Linked DNA regions of Homo sapiens: region 2 is linked to region 1. The links come from fine-mapping of genetic effects on gene expression. A gene starts in region 1. The other region holds a variant in brackets. All regions are shown on one strand. Distances are between the middles of the regions.

Region 1 (9,588 bases):
GGCGCGGTGGCTCACACCTGTAATCCCAGCACTCTGGGAGGCCAAGGTGGGTGGATCACGTGGTCAGGAGATCAAGACCATCCTGGCCAACATGGTGAAACCCTGTCTCTAGCAAAAATACAAAAATTAGCTGGGTGTGGTGGCACACGCCCATATTCCCAGCTACTGGGGAGGCTGAGGCAGGAGGATGGCGTGAACCCGGGAGGCGGAGCTTGCAGTGAGCTGAGATCACGCCAGTGCACTCTAGCCTGGGTGACAGAGCGAGACTCCGTCTCAAAGAAAAAGAAAAAAAAAAAAAGAAGCTGTTAAATGAGACTTTCTCCCTGAGTCTTTGGAGAAACAGCAAGAAAACTGAAAGGGTTTAAGTGTATCACAATTATGATTCAAAGTTATGTCATACGGTATCTGGAGACCCTAAAACCCTCTGGCACTCAGCCATTGTTGTACATGGTATATTTCAGAAAACACTGACCTCACTGACCTACTCCAACTTTCTCTTCTTATTTTACAGATAAGAAATTTGAAGCCCCCGCAAAGGGAGGTGACTTGTCCACAATCTCACAGGCTCAGTGGCTTCAGCCAGACTTGGAACGCAACCAGAAGTTCTAAGGCATCATGTCACTTTTGTGGGGGAAATGTATGAAGATGAAAAGTTTCAAGGACACCTATGGTGGAATTTTAGGCATATGGCAATCACTAGGGACACCCATGTGGAAGGAAAGGAGGCAGGCATGGCTCATGTCATTGCTGTGGGCCCCACATCAGTGCTGGGGGTCAGAGACGGAACTCATCAGAACTATAGCAAAGAGGCCGGGCACAGTGGCTCACGCCTATAATCCCAGCAGTTTAGGAGGCCAAGGTGGGCGGATCATTTAAGGTCAGGAGTTCGAGACCAGCGTGGCCAACTTGGTGAAACCCCGTCTCTACTAAAAATACAAAAACATTAGCCAGGTGTGGTAGTCCACACCTGTAATGCCAGCTACTCAGGGAGCTGAGGCAGGAGAATTGCTTGAACCCGGGAGGCAGAGGTTGCAGTGAGCCAAGATCACATGCCACTTCCCTCCAGCCTGGGCAGCAGAGCGAGACACTGCCTCAAAAAAACAAACAAACAAACAAAAAACCAAACCTATAGGAAAGAGAAAAGCAGCCTTCTGGGCTCAGAAATCTGAGTAGAAAGATGTTCTGAGCCTGGAGAAAGAAATTCATAAAAGCCTGACTCTCTCTCCAGAAAAGAGTACATTTCTGCATTTAATTTTGGGAGGTTGGTCACCATTCTTTTCCTCGCTTCTAAATAAATGCTTATATAGCATTTATATTCCAGTCACTTTACAAATATTGTCATTTAATTCTCATGCAAACCAACGAGGTAGGAACTATTGTTATCCCCATTTTACAGATGGGGAAACTGAAGTACAAAGAGCTGAAGTAACTTTTCCAAAATAGATGTGGTTTTGAACCCAAGAAATGTGATACAACTATGACATGAGGCAGTCCCAATGCATTGAATCCTTATGACTGCAATGCAAGGGAGGTATAATTAACTGCATTTTATAGATGCAGAAACTGAGGCTTGAGGCTATTTGGTGTTTCTGGTGTAGATCTAGGAGCCAAACTCCAGCCTACCTAGACTCTTTGCCTCTGCTGTACCCCTGGACCATGTGTTAGGAATTCTTGGTACAGGGTGGTAGTGCTCAATATGGTAGTGGTTTTAGTCTGTTTTCTGTTGCTTATAACAGAATGTCTGAAACTGAACAATTTTGAAAGAAAAGGAATTTATTCCTTACAGCTATGGAGGATAGGAAGTCCAAGATTGAGGGGGCACTTCTGGTGAGGGCCTTATTCCTGGTCTCTGAAGTGTCTGGAGGTGGCACAGGGTATAGCGTGGAGAGGGGACTGGGCATGCTGACATGCTATGCTTTGGTCTCTCTTCCTCTTCTTATAAAGCCACCAGTTCTCCTCCTGTGAAAACCCACAAATCCATTAATCCATGAGTGGGTTAGTCCATTCATAAGGGCAGAGGCTTCATGATCCAATCACTTCTTAAAAGTCCCAACCGCTCAGTACTGCCACATTGGGGGATTAAGTTTCCAGCACATGACATTTGGGGGACACATTTAAACCATAGCAGTAGCCATTTGCCACATGTGGTTATTGAGCACTTCAAGTATGGCTAATGTGGCTAGTGTGACTGAGAATTTTTTATTTTATTGAATATTTTAATTTTTTTTTTTTTTTTTGAGATGGAGTCTCACTCTGTCGCCCAGGTCAGAGTGCAGTGTCATGATCTCGGCTCACTGCAACCTCCGCCTCCCGGGGTCAAGTGATTCTCCTGCCTCAACATCCCGAGTAGCTGGGATTACAGGTGTGTGCCACCATGCCCGGCAAATTTTTGTATTTTTAGTAGAGACAGGGTTTCACTGTGTTAGCCAGGACGATCTTGATCTTCTGACCTCATGATCCACCCACCTCCGCCTCCCAAAGTGCTGGGATTACAGGCATGAGCCACTGCGCCCAGCCTCACATTATATTTCTATTGGAACACAGAATGGTCTAGAGAATTGGGATTTGACAAACCCAGCTGTGACAAGTCACCAAAATTTGGGGGCCATACCCAGGGTGCCGTTCCTGTCACGATACCCATAGGTCCATGTGGAGGCTGCAGGGATACAAAGCTCGTGAAATATCCCAGGATGGCATGGGCACTGGAGTCAGCTGCCCCAAGTTCAAATCTGAAATCAGTCTTTTTGTTTTTTTTTTTTTTTTGAGATGCAGTTTCACTCTTGTTGCCCAAGCTGGAATGCAGTGGCGCAATTGGCTCACTGCAACCTCCGCCTCCTGGGTTCAAGCGATTCTCCTGTCTCAGCCTCCCGAGTAGCTGGGATTACAGGTACATGCCATCACGCCCGGCTAAATTTTTGTATTCTTAGCAGAAACCGGGTTTCACCACCTTAGCCAGGCTGGTCTCCATCTCCTGACTTCAGGTGATCCGCCTGCCTCAGCCTCCCAAAGTGTTGGGATTACAGGCGTGAGCCACCGCGCCCAGCCTGAAATCAGTCTTATACGACCAGCTGGGTGGTCTTGGGTAGGTCCCTTACCTTAACTCTTCTTGTCTGCAGAATGGAGGTGACTTACTGTTTTTCTCTGTCTCCCTTTCACATCTTTGCACTCTTCACCCCTTCTCTTCCCTCAGCTTTTAGTTTAAACATCACCTTTCTGATAAGCCCTGCTGAAAATGGCCACCCTCAGTCATGACGGAGAACAAGTCTTTCCTATTTTATTCAAGAAAATGCATGATGCAATCTATTTTAAATGATCATGGTTTTAATTTTATTTTCCTGATAATGGTCTATCTCTCCACTGATTTATAAGATTTGTAAGAGCAGGGGTGGATCATTCTGGTCACTGCTGAGTCCCCAGCATTTAGAACAGGGGCTGACACAGCACAAAACAACGTTAGTTGGGAATGTACAAGCAAACCCAGCACACCTTCAGAGGGGTGCTCAGGAAACAGCCCTCCCACCTTTCTTCACCCCTCACAGCTGTGGGATCTTCCTAACCATTTCGGTGTCCCAGGATAGAGGATGAGTTTATTCACCCCTCCCCAGCAGGGGAGTTGCCAGGATTAAATGAGATCCCAGAATGCCCTGGTATACCCTGAAGGCTCTGGGACACAGGTGAGCTGGTCCCCAGGGATTTGGAAACAGGAAAACAAATATGACTCCACCCTGCCTCCCATCCAGCCTCTGCCTAGAGGAGTTATTTTATTTTATTTTACTTTTTTTTTTTTTTTGAGACGGAGTCTTGCTCTGTCGCCCAGGCTGGAGTGCAATGGCGCAATCTCAGCTCATTGCAACTCCTGCCTCCTGGGTTCAAGCGATTCTCCTGCCTCAGCCTCCCGAGTAGCTGGGACTACAGGTGTGTTTTTTGTATTTTTAGTAATTTTTTGTACTTTTAGTAGAAACGGGTTTCACCGTGTTAGCCAGGATGGTCTTGATCTCCCGACCTCGTGATCCACCTGCCTCAGCCTCCCAAAGTGCTGGGATTACAGGCATAAGCCACCACGCCCAGCCTCTAGAGGAGTTATTTTACTTACTTACTTATTTATTTATTACACAGGATCTCACTCTGTCACCCAACCTGGAGTGCAGTGGCACAATCACGTTTCACTGTAACCTGAACTCCTGGGCTCAAGTGATCCTCCTACCTCAGCTTCCTAAGTAGCTGGGACCACAAGCTCGTACCACCATGCCCGCTATCTTTTTCTCTTTGTAAAGACAGGGTCTTACTATGTCATCCAGGCTGTTCTCAAACTCCTGGCCTCAAGCAATCCTCCCGTCTTGGCCTCCCAAAGTGCTAGGATTACAGACATGAGCCAGCTCACCCAGCTGAGGAGTTATTTTTTGACACTGGTGAATTCAGATCAAAAGGGATTTCTAAGAAAGGTGCTGGACCCAGGCCGGGCGCGGTGGCTCATGCCTGTAATCTCAGCACTTTGGGAGGCCGAGGCAGGTGGATTATCTGAGGTCAGGAGTTCGAGACCAGCCTGACCAACATGGAGAAACCCTGTCTCTACTAAAAATACAAAATTAGCCAGGCATAGTAGCGCATGCCTGTAATCCCAGCTACTTGGGAGGCTGAGGCAGGAGAATCGCTTGAACCCGGGAGGTGGAGGTTGCAGTGAGCCGAGATCGTGCCATCGCACTCAATCCTGGGCAACGAGTGAAACTCTGCCTCAAAAAAAGAAAAAAAAAGAAAGGTGCTGGACGCCTAGGACGCAGAGGGGTGTTTCACCCCAAATCAAGTAGCACCAAGCCCTCCCAGGCCTTGGGTGCAAGCATATTAAAGGCCTCTTTCCCTCTCTGTCTCCATTGTTTACACTCCACTGAGCATCCGCAATGTGCCACACACTGTTCTAAGCGTCTTACACATATTAAATTATTTAATCCTCACAACAACTTTATGAAGTGAGCGCAATTATGAGCCCATTTTATGGAGCAGGAAGTTGAGGCAGGGTTTTAGGTAGCTTTTCTGGGGTAGCACTGTGGGTTGGAGCGGAGGTGGAGTGCACTCTTAGGCCAGCTGGCTCTAGGGGCTCTTCACCACTAGGCCGCACTGCCTCTAGCAAAGGGACGCGGGGAAGCTCAGCAGACCTTAGGCCTCCCAAGGGCGCCACGGTGGTTCCTTTGAGCCCAGAGTCAGCTCTTAAGTCCATAGGCCTTCCTGAAGCTTCTGAACCACTTGCCCATAGCTGGGCCTCAGGCTGGCTCTCAGTAGAATGTGGAGAATGGAGATTCCCGCATGTCCACTTCTCCTAAAGGTTTTATAAGGCAGTGCTGGGAATGTGCTTTATAAAAAAGGGGAAGCACCCCGACAACAGTCACTGTTTGCTCTTTTAAGCACCATCCTGAGAAGGAGGAATGTTCTTCCCATTTCATAGGTGGGGAAACCGAGGCTCAGAAGAGCAAATTTTTGGCCGGGCGCGGTGGCTCACGCCTGTAATCCCAGCACTTTGGGAGGCCGAGGCGGGTGGATCACGAGGTCAGGAGATCGAGACCATCCTGGCTAACAAGGTGAAACCCCGTCTCTACTAAAAATACAAAAAATTAGCCGGGCGTGGTGCGGGCGCCTGTAGTCCCAGCTACTCGGGAGGCTGAGGCAGGAGAATGGCGTGAACCCGGGAGGCGGAGCTTGCAGTGAGCCGAGATCGCGCCACCGCCCTCCAGCCTGGGCGACAGAGCAAGACTCTGTCTCAAAAAAAAAAAAAAAAAGAGCAAATTTTTTTTCCAAGGTGATAGGGAGAGTCCGTGGCTGATGTCTGCACTGACCAGACGCCCCTAGGGGGCCAGCGAGGGCGGGTCCCAGGTGCAGCGGATGCAGAGGAGAGAGGCCCGGGCGCGGCGCGGGGGATGGTGCGATCCCGGGCCCGAGGGCATCAGACGGCGGCTGATTAGCTCCGGTTTGCATCACCCGGACCGGGGGATTAGCTCCGGTTTGCATCACCCGGACCGGGGGATTAGCTCCGGTTTGCATCACCCGGACCGGGGGCCGGGCGCGCACGAGACTCGCAGCGGAAGTGGAGGCGGCTCCGCGCGCGTCCGCTGCTAGGACCCGGGCAGGGCTGGAGCTGGGCTGGGATCCCGAGCTCGGCAGCAGCGCAGCGGGCCGGCCCACCTGCTGGTGCCCTGGAGGCTCTGAGCCCCGGCGGCGCCCGGGCCCACGCGGAACGACGGGGCGAGGTACTCGGCGGGGTGCGGCCTGCGGACTCGCCCGGAGGCCGGGGGGCGGGAGGGGGCGGCCGGGGAAGGGGGCGCCGGAAGCCTCTGGGCGTCTGCGTGTTGCCGCGTGTTACACGCACGCACGCCCCTTACACACCTTTTCACAGACCCCGCCGTCGGGGCGCGGCCAGGTCAGATCCCTTTTGATCCGGGCCTGGGCTGAGTGCTCCCCCCGGGCTTCAGGTGACGCGGCCCCGCGGAGCGTGGGGTCGCCCGAGTTGGGCTGGGGAAGCCAGGGACGGAGGTGTCCGGCCGTCACCCCTAGAGGAGGGCGTGCGGGGGTCTGTTTTGCGTGAGTGCGGGATAGGGGAGTCGTGTGGTGCGGTGAGGGGCTTGTGGGGGGCACTGGAGGACTCTGGGGGTGGCGGGGGATCCGAGGGGGTCCTCGTGAACCCGCAGGGGAGAGTCCTGGGTGAGGGTGGGTCCCGAGCACCTGTGTCTCAGGAGATGGTGAGAGCTGTCTGGAGGGCTGGGCACTTGGTGGCAGGGGTTGGCGGTGCAGGGGACACCGCCGGGACAGGGCTGGGGTGCCCTGGAGCGGGGGAGCCGAGGGAGTGGGAGCGGGGGCGCAGCGCGCGATCTCTGGCCCGGCAGGGCCGCTGGTTCTCCCCAGTGCGCGGCTCCGGGTTTGCAGGTGGACGGTGCGCGCGTGTCTGCGGTGTGTGCTGTGCCTGCAGACCGGGGAGGGCGGGGGACGACAGCCACCTCCTTCCCTCTGCCTCACCCCCCTCCTGTCCCAGGGCCGCGCTTCAATTTCCGCTGAAACTTCTGACTCGGACACCCGCCGCCTTTCGCTTGGGCTCCCACGGGAGGGGCCTGGCTGCGGGGGGCGGGGCGGGGTGGGGGTGCGGCCTTGCTCGGGTAGACCATGGGTGTGACAGCTGGGAGGGCTGTGTGTGTGTGTGTGTGTGTGTGTGTGCGTGCGCGCGCGCGCTTGCGCTTGATGTAACCCGCCCTCATTTCCCTGGGTCCCGAGTGTGGCAGGGAACAGCAAGAGGTAGATATTAGGGGCTGCTTTCATTCCACATCACAGATTCTATTCTGCAGTGTGGTCTGCAAAATGCCTTGCCCAAGATGTATAGACTCAGTTACCGCATCTGTCCCCATCTGGGTGGAGCTTATCCCAGGCCCCAACAGGCTCTGAGGGATGGCCGGGGCCAAGGCAGCCTGGACTACTGATGTGGCACAGGCCAGAGGGACTCCAGGCAGTCTCCTGCTGCACAGGGCACAAAGCATGTGCACAGCCAGGTATCATCCTGCGTGACTCAGAACAGCCTTGAGATGTAAGGAGTGTCATCCCAGCCTCGAACCTGGGGAGCTTTCTAAGACTCCCAAGGATGGTACTTATGCATCTTGCTGTGAAGAATAACAGGATGAGTGCTAATAATGACCATTTCCTGACACCTACCTGGCAACAGGTCCATAAGCTCTACATGCTTCATTTGTGTTTTCATTTCATCATCACGAAAAACCTGTAAGCTTTGCATCCTGTTCCCACTTTACAGGAACTGAGGCTCAGAAAGCTTGAGGAACTTGACCAGGGGTACCCCCCAGCTAGAAAGGGTTTGAGACAGGATTAGAACCCAGGAATATCTGACTACAGCCACTCCTTACTGCATTCTTACCAAGCCAAAGTCATGACCTTTCACTCATGTGGGGAGGCCTTCCCTTCCAAGGCAGCTCTTCCATTTGGGAGCAGCGTACTTGGAGAGGTGGGCCTCTGTCTGGTAACTGACTCATGTTGCCTTGTTAATCCTGCCTTGAACTGTTGGGAAGGTCTTTAACCAGGCTGAGGTCTCTCGCACCAATGCCCATACCTGGGCATGCACCTCCTTGGAATGGAGTTTAAGTGGGTGGGCAGATGGGTTCTAGAGAGAACCCGTCTGCCCTGACCATGCCCTACTGCCCTCTCCTTCAGCCACCACACACACAGTCACACAGCTGCGTGAATGGTGGCTTTCCTTTCACTTAACAGTTCACTCTGGAGATCCTTCCAATTACCCTATAAAGAGCATCCTCAACCTTTTAAATGGCTGCACATTGTTCCGTTGTGTGGATGAAGTATAATTTATGTAACCAGCCCTGTAATTATAGACAGCCAATTATTTCTGTCAAAAGGGCTGCAGGAATAACTGTGTATTTGCATGCTTACACACACACACCTCTACAGAATAAATTCTTAGCAATGGGATTAATTGCTGAATCAAAGCTCACACGCTTTTCATCGTTGTTTTTGTTTTGTTTTGTTTTGCTTTGTTTTGAGACAGTCTCACTTTGTTGCACAGGCTAGAGTTCCTGACCATGGCTCACTGAAGCCTTTACCTTCTGGGCTCAAGTGATTCCCCTACTTCAACCTCCTGCATGGCTGGGACTACAGCTGTGTGCCATCATGACCAGATAATTTTTTTTTTCTTAGGGACAGGGTCTCGCTACGTTGCCTAGGCTGGTCTTGAACTCCTGGGCTCAAGTGATCTTCCTGCTTCAGCCTCCCAAAGTACTGGGATTACAGGCATGAAGCACTGCACCCAGCCTGTTTTTCATTTTGATATTGTCAAAATGCACTCCTCAGAGGTGGTACCTTTTATCCTCCCACTAGCACTGTCTTCATTGTTAGTGGCTGCACTGCCACTATTCCACAGTATAAACCCACTTTTCATGACACTGCCAAGACATAAGGGTCTGAAATACTTAACAGTTTTCTTCCACAGTCCCCAAAATACAGGCTTCTCCCCCAGCTCAGGACATGAAGCCATCATCCCTCCTCATTGCAGGAGCCAAAGGCTGGACCTCACCTCGATTCCACCCTCTCCTTCACCCCTCACATCCAATCCATCCAGTCCATCCAGTCTGCCACTGAGTCCTCTTGATCTTCCTCCTATGAGCCCTTAACTTCGCGTCTCCATCTAGCACCCCCTAGTCCAGGTCACCTTCTCCTGCCTGGACTCGTGCTTGTGTGGGCCTCCTAGCTAGTCTCACTGCCCCGTCTTGTACTTTCAAATCCACCCTAAAAGCATGATGTTCCCCTGCTGAAATCCTTCAGTGGCTCCCCACTGCCTTTGGATAATTCCAAATCCTATTGTGTGTTAATTAGGATTAGGCTCAGCTGTAATATAGAAACAGCCACTTAATAGCTAAAATGAAATAGACGTTTTTTTCTTCTTTTTCTCTTTTTTTGAGACAGAGTCTTGCTCTGTCCCCAGGCTGGAGTGCAGTGGCGAGATCTCAGCTCACTACAACCTCTGCCTCCCAGGCTCAAGTGATTCTCCTGCCTCAGCCTCCCGAGTAGCTGGGACTACAGGCATGCACCACCATG
Region 2 (9,588 bases), 29 kb after region 1:
AGAAAACAAGACAACAGGAGCGAAAACAGATAGAAACAAATATGCCCAGAGTTTGTATATCAGTATTATCAGACGCAGATTATAAAACAAAATGTTGGCCGGGCACGGGGGCTCATGCCTGTAATCCCAGCACTTTGGGAGGCCAAGGCGCATGGATCACCTGAGGTCAAGAGTTCAAGACCAGCCTGACCAACATGGGGAAACCCCGTCTCAAATAAAAATACAAAAAAATTAGCTGGGCCTGGTGGCAGGCTCCTGTAATCCCAGGTACTTCAGGAGGCTGAGGTAGGAGAATCGCTTGTACCCGGGAGGGAGAGGTTGCAGTGAGCTGAGATCGCACCATCTCACTCCAGCCTGGGCAACAAGAGCGAAACTCTGTCTAAAAAAAAAAAAAGTTTACTGCGTTTAAATAAATAAATAACCTAGAAACATTGCCAAAGTATAGAAAATTATATCACATGACAACAAATTTTAAAATAACCTAACAGAACTTCTAAAATAAAATAATACAATAATCAAAATTTTTAGGCCAGGCACAGTGGCTCACACCTGTAATCCCAGCACTTTGGGAAGCCGAAGTGGGTGGATCACTTGAGGTCAGGAGTTCGAGACCAGCCTGGCCAACATGGTGAAACCCTGTCTCTACTAAAAATACAAAAAATTAGCCAGGAGTGGTGGCAGACACCTGTAATCCCAGCTACTCAGGAGGCTGAGGCAGGAGAATCACCTGAACCCGGGAGGCAGAGGTTGCAGTGAGCTAAGATCGTGCCATTTGCACTCCAGCCTGGGCAACAAGAGTGAAACTCTGTCACACACACACACACACACACACACACACACAAATTAAATTTAAAAGATGGGCTAAACAGCAAACTAGATATGGCTAAAGAGGGAATTAGTGAGACAGAAATCAGACACCAATCACAGATTCAAGAAACTCCATAAATTTTACACATAGACACATCATAGTAAAAGTGCAAAAAGCCAAAGATTTTTTTTAAAAAACTCTTAAAAGCACTCAGAGGAAAAGAATCAGAGATTCTAAAAACAAAAAACAAAACAAAACAAAAAAACCCCAAAACAACAACAACAAAAAACAAACAAAAAACCAGTACTACAACATGGATAAACCTCAAAAACGTTATGTCAAGAAAAACCCCAAAGTTATGCCAAGTGAAAGAAGCCAGTCACAAAGGTTCACATATTGTCAAAATCTAATTTTCTTTTTGAGACAGGGTCTCACTCTGTCACCCAGGCTGGAGTGCAGTGGGACGATCACTGCTCTACAGGTGCACGCCATCACACTCGGCTAATTTTTGTATTTTTTGTAGAGATGGGGTTTCACCATGTTGCCCAGGCTGGTCTTGAATTCCTGGGCTCAAGCGATCCACCTGGCTTGGCCTCCCCAAGTGCTGGGATTACTGGCATGAGCCACTGTGGCCCATCAGTAAGATCTAATTTCTATAAAATATCAAGAAGAGGAAAGTCTATAGAGACATAAAGTATATTAGTGCTGTCAGTTGGAGGATGGGAAACAGGGAATGTCTGCTAATGAGTACAGGTCTATTTTGGGGTGATAAGAATGTTCTTTCTTTCTTTTTTTTTTTTTGGTCTGAGACAGAGTCTCGCTCTATCACGCAGGCTGGAGTACAACGGTGCGATCTCAGCTCACTGCAACCTCTGCCTCCCAGGTTCAAGCCATTCTCATGCCTCAGGCTCTGCAGTAGCTAGGATTACAGATGTCCGCCACCACACCTGGCTAATTTTTGTATTTTTAGTAGAGACAGGGTTTCACCATGTTGGCCAGGCTGGTCTCGAACTCCTGACCTCAAGTGATCCGCCCACCTCGGCCTCTCAAAGTGCTGGGATTGTAGGTGTGAGCCACCATGCTCAGCCAAAAATGTCCTAAAATTTGATTGTGATGATGGGTGTACAATTCTGTAAATGTTACTAAAAACTATTGAATTGTATATTTTAGGTGGGTGGATTTTATGGCATATAAATTATATCTCAATAAAGCTGTTTATAAAAAGAACAGCAGTTAGATTGACAGGTGATGATATCTCAATAAAGCTGTTTATAAAAAGAACAGCAGTTAGATTGACAGGTGATGATATCTCAACAGCAACCATTTCCCAGCATTTTGGGAGGCCGAGGTGGGCAGATCATTTGAGCCCAGGAGTTCAAGACCAGCCTGGGCAACATGACCAAACCCTGTCTCTACAAAAATTAGCCAGCTGTGGTGGCACGTGCCCGTGGTTTGCAGCTACTCGGGAAGCTGAGCCCAGGAGTTGGAGGCTGTAGTGAGCCATGATCACGCCACTGCACTCCAGCCTGGGCAACAAGAGTGAAACTCCATCTCAAAAAAAAAAAAAAAAAAAAAAAAGGCTTCCCCAGGCCATTCAAATGTACAGCCAAAGTTAAGAAACATTGTCTAAAGGGATGTGTTTCCGGCAAAAGAAAAATTATCCCAGATGAAGGTCTGAGGTTCATTCCTTCATTCAACATATGGAGCCTCCATTATGTGTTTGGAACTGTTCTAGACACCAGGAACACAGCAGTGAGCAAAACAAACCAAAGTCCCTGCCCTCTAGGAGAGGAAAACAGACCCAGAATAACATAAATAAGTAAAACATGCTCCGTTAGACAGTAATAGATGCTGAGAAGAAAAAATGAAGCCAGGAAAGCGGATGTGAAATGCTGGATACGTGTGTCTGTGAAATTTCAGATGGAGTAACTAGGGAAGATTTTTGGGTAAAGACCAAAATAAAGGGAAGGAGGGAGCCATGCAGACGTTTGGGTTATGGCAGGTGCAAAGGCCTTAGGGCGGGAGTGTGTCTGACTTACTCCAGGACCCAGCAGGTCAATGGGACTTGAGTGGAATGAGGCAGGGGCAGGGCAGTCAGCTACGAAGACAGAGATCGGGAGGCAATTTGCGAGCCCTGGGACAGATCTCGGATTTTGCTTTAAGTGAGATGGGAGTACTTGGGTCGGGGAGTGGCATGGGTTTGATTTACATTTTAACAGGACTCTCCGGCAGCTAGGTGGAAATGGACGGTAGGGGGCAAAAAGAGAAGCAAGGAGGCCCAGGAGGAGGCTGGTTCAAGACCCCTGAGATGATGGAGCACTGATGGAGCTGGAGCGGGATGGGGCCGGAGGAGGTGAGGGATGAGATTCTGCAAGTGGAGCCCGCAGGATCTGCTGATCGATGGGACGAGGAACGGGAGAAAAATTAAAGCGGCGCATGAGGCAGACGAATGCAAACTTCACCAATAGCTCAACGAAAAGACAGACGGTGACCGCTGAGAGGCAGCGTCGGATCTGGGTAAGGGCGGGTTCCTGAGCCTGCCAGGCCTGGATTCAAACCTCGGCTGAGTGGCCTTGGACAGGTCATCAACAAACAGAGCCTTCGTTTATTCATGTGCAAACGGGGCCAAGGACCGGGCCTGCCCCGAGGTATGCCTGAGGCTTGGGTGAGCAGGCGCCGGGCTCGCAGGGCGCGCTCCTAACCCGTCCCCAGCGGCTCGACGCTGTGGATCCCGCCGCCCTCCAGCCCCGGCTCCGGCGCCGACTCCTGCTCAGGCTCCTGCTCCTGCCCCCGGCCCCGCCCCCGGCCCCGGCCCCGGCCCCCGGCCCACCCCGGCCCCGCCCCCAGCCCCCGGCCCCCCCGGCCCCGCCCCCGGCCCCGCCCCGGCCCCGCCCACCCCGCCTGCGGCCCAGCTCCTTCCCGCGGCTCTGCGATGCGGCCCGCAGGGTGACCCGGGCGGGAGTCCGGGGACCCGCGATCAGCCCCGGAGGACGGGGTGGGGTCGCCCCAAACAGGAGCGCCGGGACCGCTGGGACCCCGCACTCGGCGTCCGCCGCCGCCGGGTAGCCGGGCAGTGGAGGTCCCGGATGAGGCGACAATTTTTCCGGCCCCCCCTCCCAGTCCCGCCCCACTTCCGGGGCCGCCACTTTCACTTTCTCTTCCGCCGAAGCCGCTCCCCTTGCGAAGAACTGGGGCCTCCCGGGAGGAGAGAGGGCTTTGCCTTGAAACCCGGGACGCCAGGGGCGCTCCCGCAAGTGGGGGTCCTCCGGGACTTGGAACGCCCCGGCTGGGTGGTGTCCGGGCGTCCTTTCCCCGCTTCTTCCCACCTCGGCTGGTCCCGTTTCCTCCTGCGCCCAGTGCGGACCTGTCTCGGCGCCCGCTGCCCTCTCACCGCCCCACGCAGGATCCCGGCCTGGTCACCGGGCAGTGTGATGCTTCCCGACTGCCGCGGGGACAGCGAGGCACACACAGGGCTTGGGCCGCGCCGGAGGCCACACGGCCTGGCTGAGTTGCTCCTGGTCTCCCGCCTCTCCCAGGCGACCCGGAGGTAGCATTTCCCAGGAGGCACGGTCCCCCCCAGGGGGATGGGCACAGCCACGCCAGATGGACGAGAAGACCAAGAAAGGTGGGCACAGGCTGGAGGTGGCTGGGGAACTTCCGGTGGGAAGTGGGCCCCGCAGGACCTGGCCTTGCCCCTGGCCAGAAGGGCCTTGGAGAGGGGGCTTTAGCCTGCCCTCCCTCTACCCTCCTCCCCATCAGTTTCCTCCTTTGGTACCTGCTGGCTTCCAGAGCCATCTTGGGGCCCTGAGAACTCCTTGGGCTGGCTCTGTGCTGAGATGGGGCTAGGGGACTCGCAGAGGACACAGGGCATTGAACTTGGAGACCTCCTGGGCTGGTGGGAGACAGACGTCAGTTGACCTGAGAAGCAGGGGTACTTGCCTCTTCTCTTGTCCCCTGCACCTAGGGTTGTAGAACGGAAGTCAGTCACTGCCTTGCTGGAAACCCTCCCATGCCCCTCTGTGTTCTCCAAACAAAACCCAGAGGCCCTGGGTGGCCCACAGGATATCTGTCCTCAGTCACCCCGCCATGCTCACTCTACTGGAGCCCCACTGGCTTCCTTCGGTTCTCATCCAACCATTTTTTGGCCAAGGCCCTTACTCTTCCTTCCACCTGGACCACTCTTCC[C/T]CACTGGAGCTTGACACGTGCAGCTTCTCCTCCTTCAGGTCTTAGCTTCAGTGTTACCCCCTCCCAGAGGCCTCCCCTGGTCTCCTTAACCTGTTTATTTCCCTGCCAGCAAGGATCGCAATCTGACTTTTTTTTTTTTTCTTGTTAAACTTGTTCATTGTCTCCCCACTGGGCAGGGAGATCCATAAGGAGAGGGGCCCTGTTTATAAATCTCTGTGGGATTCCAGTTCCTGGGACAGTGGGTGGCACACAGTAGAAGCTCAATAACTGCTTGTTGGATAAATGAATAGAAATATGAGGGACCCTGGGAATGGGAAGGACAAACAACCAAATGAGCCTAGTGTGAGGAGGAGTGGGGAATATTAGAGAACCCCTCCCGGAGAAAGGGACTTTTAGTCTGGGTGCTGAAGGATACGTAGGAGTTCACCAGGAAGACAGAGAAAGCAGCACACACAAAGGATCGCCTCCTTTCCTACCCCATTACTCTCAGCTCCTGAAAATAAACCCTGTGCTAACTGGCTCCTGCTGTACTGGCTTTCAGCAGAGGAAATGGCCCTGAGCCTCACCCGAGCAGTGGCGGGCGGGGATGAACAGGTGGCAATGAAGTGTGCCATCTGGCTGGCAGAGCAACGGGTGCCCCTGAGTGTGCAACTGAAGCCTGAGGTCTCCCCAACGCAGGACATCAGGTGAGGAGTGCATGGCTGGCCTGAACCCAAGGGACAGCAGGACAGGATATTCTTGCCTGTAGAACAGTTCTTCCTAATGGCACGTTCTGGCTTCAGGAGGCCTGGCTTCTAACCCTAGTTATGTCATTAATCAACTGTGAAATACAGAGCAGGTCACTTCACCTCTCAGTGTGTCCTCATTTTAAAAATCAGACCGTAACAGTAGCTATCTCATAGGGTTGTTAGGAGGTGTACTGTATTAGGATGTTAGGCCTTATACAACAGAAGAAAACGGAACAGTGACGTAAACAAATTTGATGGCAGGGAGTCCAGATAGGGAGGTTCTGCTCCCGACAGTCCTCAGAGGCTCATATTGTTTCTCTCACCATTCTGCCATTCATTCCCAGATTCCTCATGGTGCAAAATGGCCATTCCAGCTCCATCCAGCCATCACATCACAGGAGGAAGGGAAGAAAGACACCCCTCCACACTCTTCTAAAGAGCATAGCTCAAAAATTGTACACACTTCTTCCGTTAATTCCTGTGGACCAGAACTGATTCCCACAGCTACAGTTCAGCTTGAGGGGAGACTGTATAGCCAAGATATTCAGCTAGAATTCAGGGGTTCGCTTGGTAAGGGAAGGGAAGAGAATGGATACTGTCGGTCTGTGCTCCAGGAGACTTAAACTCAATGCTGAAACACTTTGCACAATGCCTGGCGTGTTATGCACTCAATAATAAACATTAGTGTCTATCGTTATTTTTTGACTGCTTTTTCATTACTGGATAGTAAGGCAATAGTTTTATGGTTTCTGATTTTTGGTTCTCTTGGTGGGTCCCATTTGGTTTTTCTTAAAACAGTTTTATTTATTTATTTATCCTTACAGTTCGACCATTTAAAGTATACAGTTCAATGGCTTTTAGTATATTCAAGGTTGTGCAACCATTGCCACAATCAATTTTAGAACATTTTCATCATCCTGTAAAGAAACCTGGTACTCATTAGCAGCCAGTCCTCATCTCTCTACCTTTTCCCTAACTCCCCAACCTTAGGCAACCACTAATCTACTTTTTATCTCTAGGGATCTACCTTCTGGAAATTCCATATAAGTTGAATCATGCAATATGTGGCCTTTTGTATCTGGCTTCTTTCACTTAGGATCGTTTTCGAGATTCATCCATGTTGTAGCATGTCTAACAACTTCATTCCCCTTTTTTTTTTTGACATGGGGTCTCTTGTCTAGGTTGAAGTGCAGTGGTGCCATCATCGCTCACTACAGCCTCAACTTCCTGGATTCAAGCAGTCCTCCTGCCTTGGCCTCCCAGGTAGCTGGGACTACTGGCATGTACCACCACACCCGGCTAATTTTTTTTTTCTTTGAGATGGGAGTCTCACTCTGTCCCCCAGGCTGGAGTGCAGTGGCGCGATCTCAGCTCACTGCAAGCTCCACCTCCCAGGTTCACGCCATTCTCCTGCCTCAGCTTCCCGAGTAGCTGGGACTACAGGCGCCCGCCACCACGCCCAGCTAATTTTTTGTATTTTTAGTAGAGACGGGGTTTCGCCGTGTTAACCAGGATGGTCTCCATCTCCTGACCTCGTGATCCGCCCGCCTATGCCTCCCAATGTGCTGGGACTACAGGCGTGAGCCACCACACCCAGCCACACCTGGCTAATTTTTAGAAAGTCTGTAGAGATAAGGTCTTGCTTTGTTGTCTGGGCTGGTCTTGAACTTCTGGCTTAAGCAGTCTTCCCACCTCAGCCTCTCAAAGTGCTGGGATTACAGGTGTGAGCCACCATGCCCAACCAGAACTTTATTCCTTTTTATTGCCAAATAATAATCTATTGTATAGACATATCTCATTATCTTTACTCATTAAATCAGTTGATGGACATTTGGGTGTTTCTATTTTTTGGCTATTATAAACAATGCTGCCGTGAACATTTGTGTCCAACTTTTTGTGTGGACACGTTTTCATTTCTCTTGGATACACACTAGCAGTGGAATTGCTGGGTCATACAGTAACTCTATGTTACTTTTTGAAGAAATGCCAGACAGTTTTCCAAAGTGGCTGCACCATTTTACATTCCCACCAGCATATATGAGGGTTCTAGTTTCTCCACATCATCTCTAATACTTGTTGTTGTTTATCTTTTTGATTATAGCCATCCTAGTAAGTTTGAAGAGGTATCTCACTGTGGTTTTGATTTGCAATTTCCTAACCATTTGATGACAAATGATGTTAAGCATCTTTTCATGCACATATTTTCTTTGGAGGTTTGCCTATTCAGGTCTTTTGCCCATTTTAAAATTGGGTTTATCTTTTTTTTTTTTTGAGATGGAGTCTCGCTCTGTCACCCAAGCAGGAGTGCAATGGTGCAATCTCGGCTCACTGCAACCTCCGCCTCCCAGGTTCAAGTGATTCTCCTGCCCCAGCCTCCTGAGTAGCTGGATTACAGGTGCCCACCACTACACTGGCTAATTTTTGTATTTTTAGTAGAGACGGGTCTTACCATGTTGGCCAGGCTGGTCTTGAACTCCTGACCTCAGGTGATCCACCCACCTTGGCCTTTCCAAAGTGTTGGGATTACAGGCATGAGCCACTGCACCCGGCTGGGTTTATGTTTTTATATTGAGTTGTAGGAGTACTTTATTCATTTTAGCTAGAAGTACTTTATTCATTTTAGCTTATCAGCTACATGATTTGCAAAAATTTTCTCTCATTCTGTGGATTGTCTTCTCACTTTGTTGATGGTATCCTTTGAACCACAAAAGTTTTAAATTTTGATGATGTCCAGTTAGTCTATGTTTTATTTTGTTGTTTGTGCTTTTGGTGTCATATCTAAGAAATCGTTGCCTCATCCAAGGTCATGAAGATTTACCTCTATATTTTCTTCTAAAGATTTTATGGTTTTAGCTCTTACATTTAGGTCTTTGGTCCATTTTGATTTAATTTTTATATAAGGTGTGAGGTAAGGGTCCAGCTTCATTCTTTTGCACGTGGATATTGAGTTGTGCCGGCACTATTTGTTAAGGCTGTTTTCCTCTGTTTAATCATCTTAACCCTTTTTGGAAATTAATTGACCATAAATGTGAGTGCTTATTTCTGGACTCTCATTTCTATACCATTGAACTATAATATATATCTGCCCTTACGCCAGTACCACACTAATTACTATAGCTTCATAGTATTTGAAATCAGGAAATACAAGTTCTCCAACTTTTGTTCTTTTTCAATATTGTTTTGGTTATTGCAAGTCTCTTGAATTTCCATATAAATTTTACGATCAGCTTGTCTGTTTCTGCAAAAAAAAAACAACAACAACTGGGAATTTTGGTAGGGATTTCATTGAATCTGTAGATCATTGGCCACTTGATTTTAAACAAAATATTGAGATATCTACTTCTTGAAATGATTGCTTGAGACAGTACCTGTGTACTCCTTGCTATGAAAAATGAGGAAGTTAACATACTCATCTTCCACCTTTCCTTTTCCTTACTTTTTTTGTTGAAGTATCATTGTGGACACTTTCCCAGTTGACTTCCACTTGATCCCCTGAATTAACTAACTGGCACTGGCGTTTCCTTTGTAAAATGTACAATGTCAGCCACCATCTTGCTACTAAAGTGTGGCCTGTGGACCACAACATGGGGGGAATCTCAGGTCTCACCTCAGACTTGCTGGGTCAGAACCTGAGTTTTGAGAGGCTCTGGGCAACCGGCACCTCTCAGACCTGCTGTTGGGTTCTCATCGATGGACCCGATGCTTCCTAGCAAATGATACCTGTTGTATGTGTTATTGGTAATAACATAGTTTACTTAGCTATTACATTAATTAATAAAACATGAGCGCTGAAAGAGTTGTTTCTGTGAAAATAAGCTGATTGCTTTAAAAAGATAAGAGACAAATCACCAAAAAAAAAAAAAAAAA

The links. PIP is the estimated chance that this variant, and not a neighbour inherited with it, causes the effect.
Region 2: its variant is fine-mapped to the expression of TRIB3 in whole blood (TOPMed, PIP above 0.99).

The regions. Positions count from the first base shown.
Region 1 is chr20:374,934-384,521 of GRCh38, forward strand. It overlaps TRIB3 (tribbles pseudokinase 3), which reads left to right and starts at 5,827. Exons shown (of 4, transcript NM_021158.5): 1 at 5,827-6,236. RefSeq lists silencers at 6,111-6,270, 6,291-6,400, 6,671-7,260 and an enhancer at 6,946-7,944.
Region 2 is chr20:404,347-413,934 of GRCh38, forward strand. RBCK1 (RANBP2-type and C3HC4-type zinc finger containing 1) reads left to right here and starts at 3,953. Exons shown (of 12, transcript NM_031229.4): 1 at 3,953-4,433; 2 at 5,535-5,679. The coding sequence starts at 4,412. RefSeq lists silencers at 1,671-1,827, 3,651-3,920 and enhancers at 3,898-4,540, 4,491-4,540, 4,541-5,181, 4,591-4,690, 4,751-4,850 and 1 more. The variant C/T (reference allele first, on the strand shown) is at 4,994.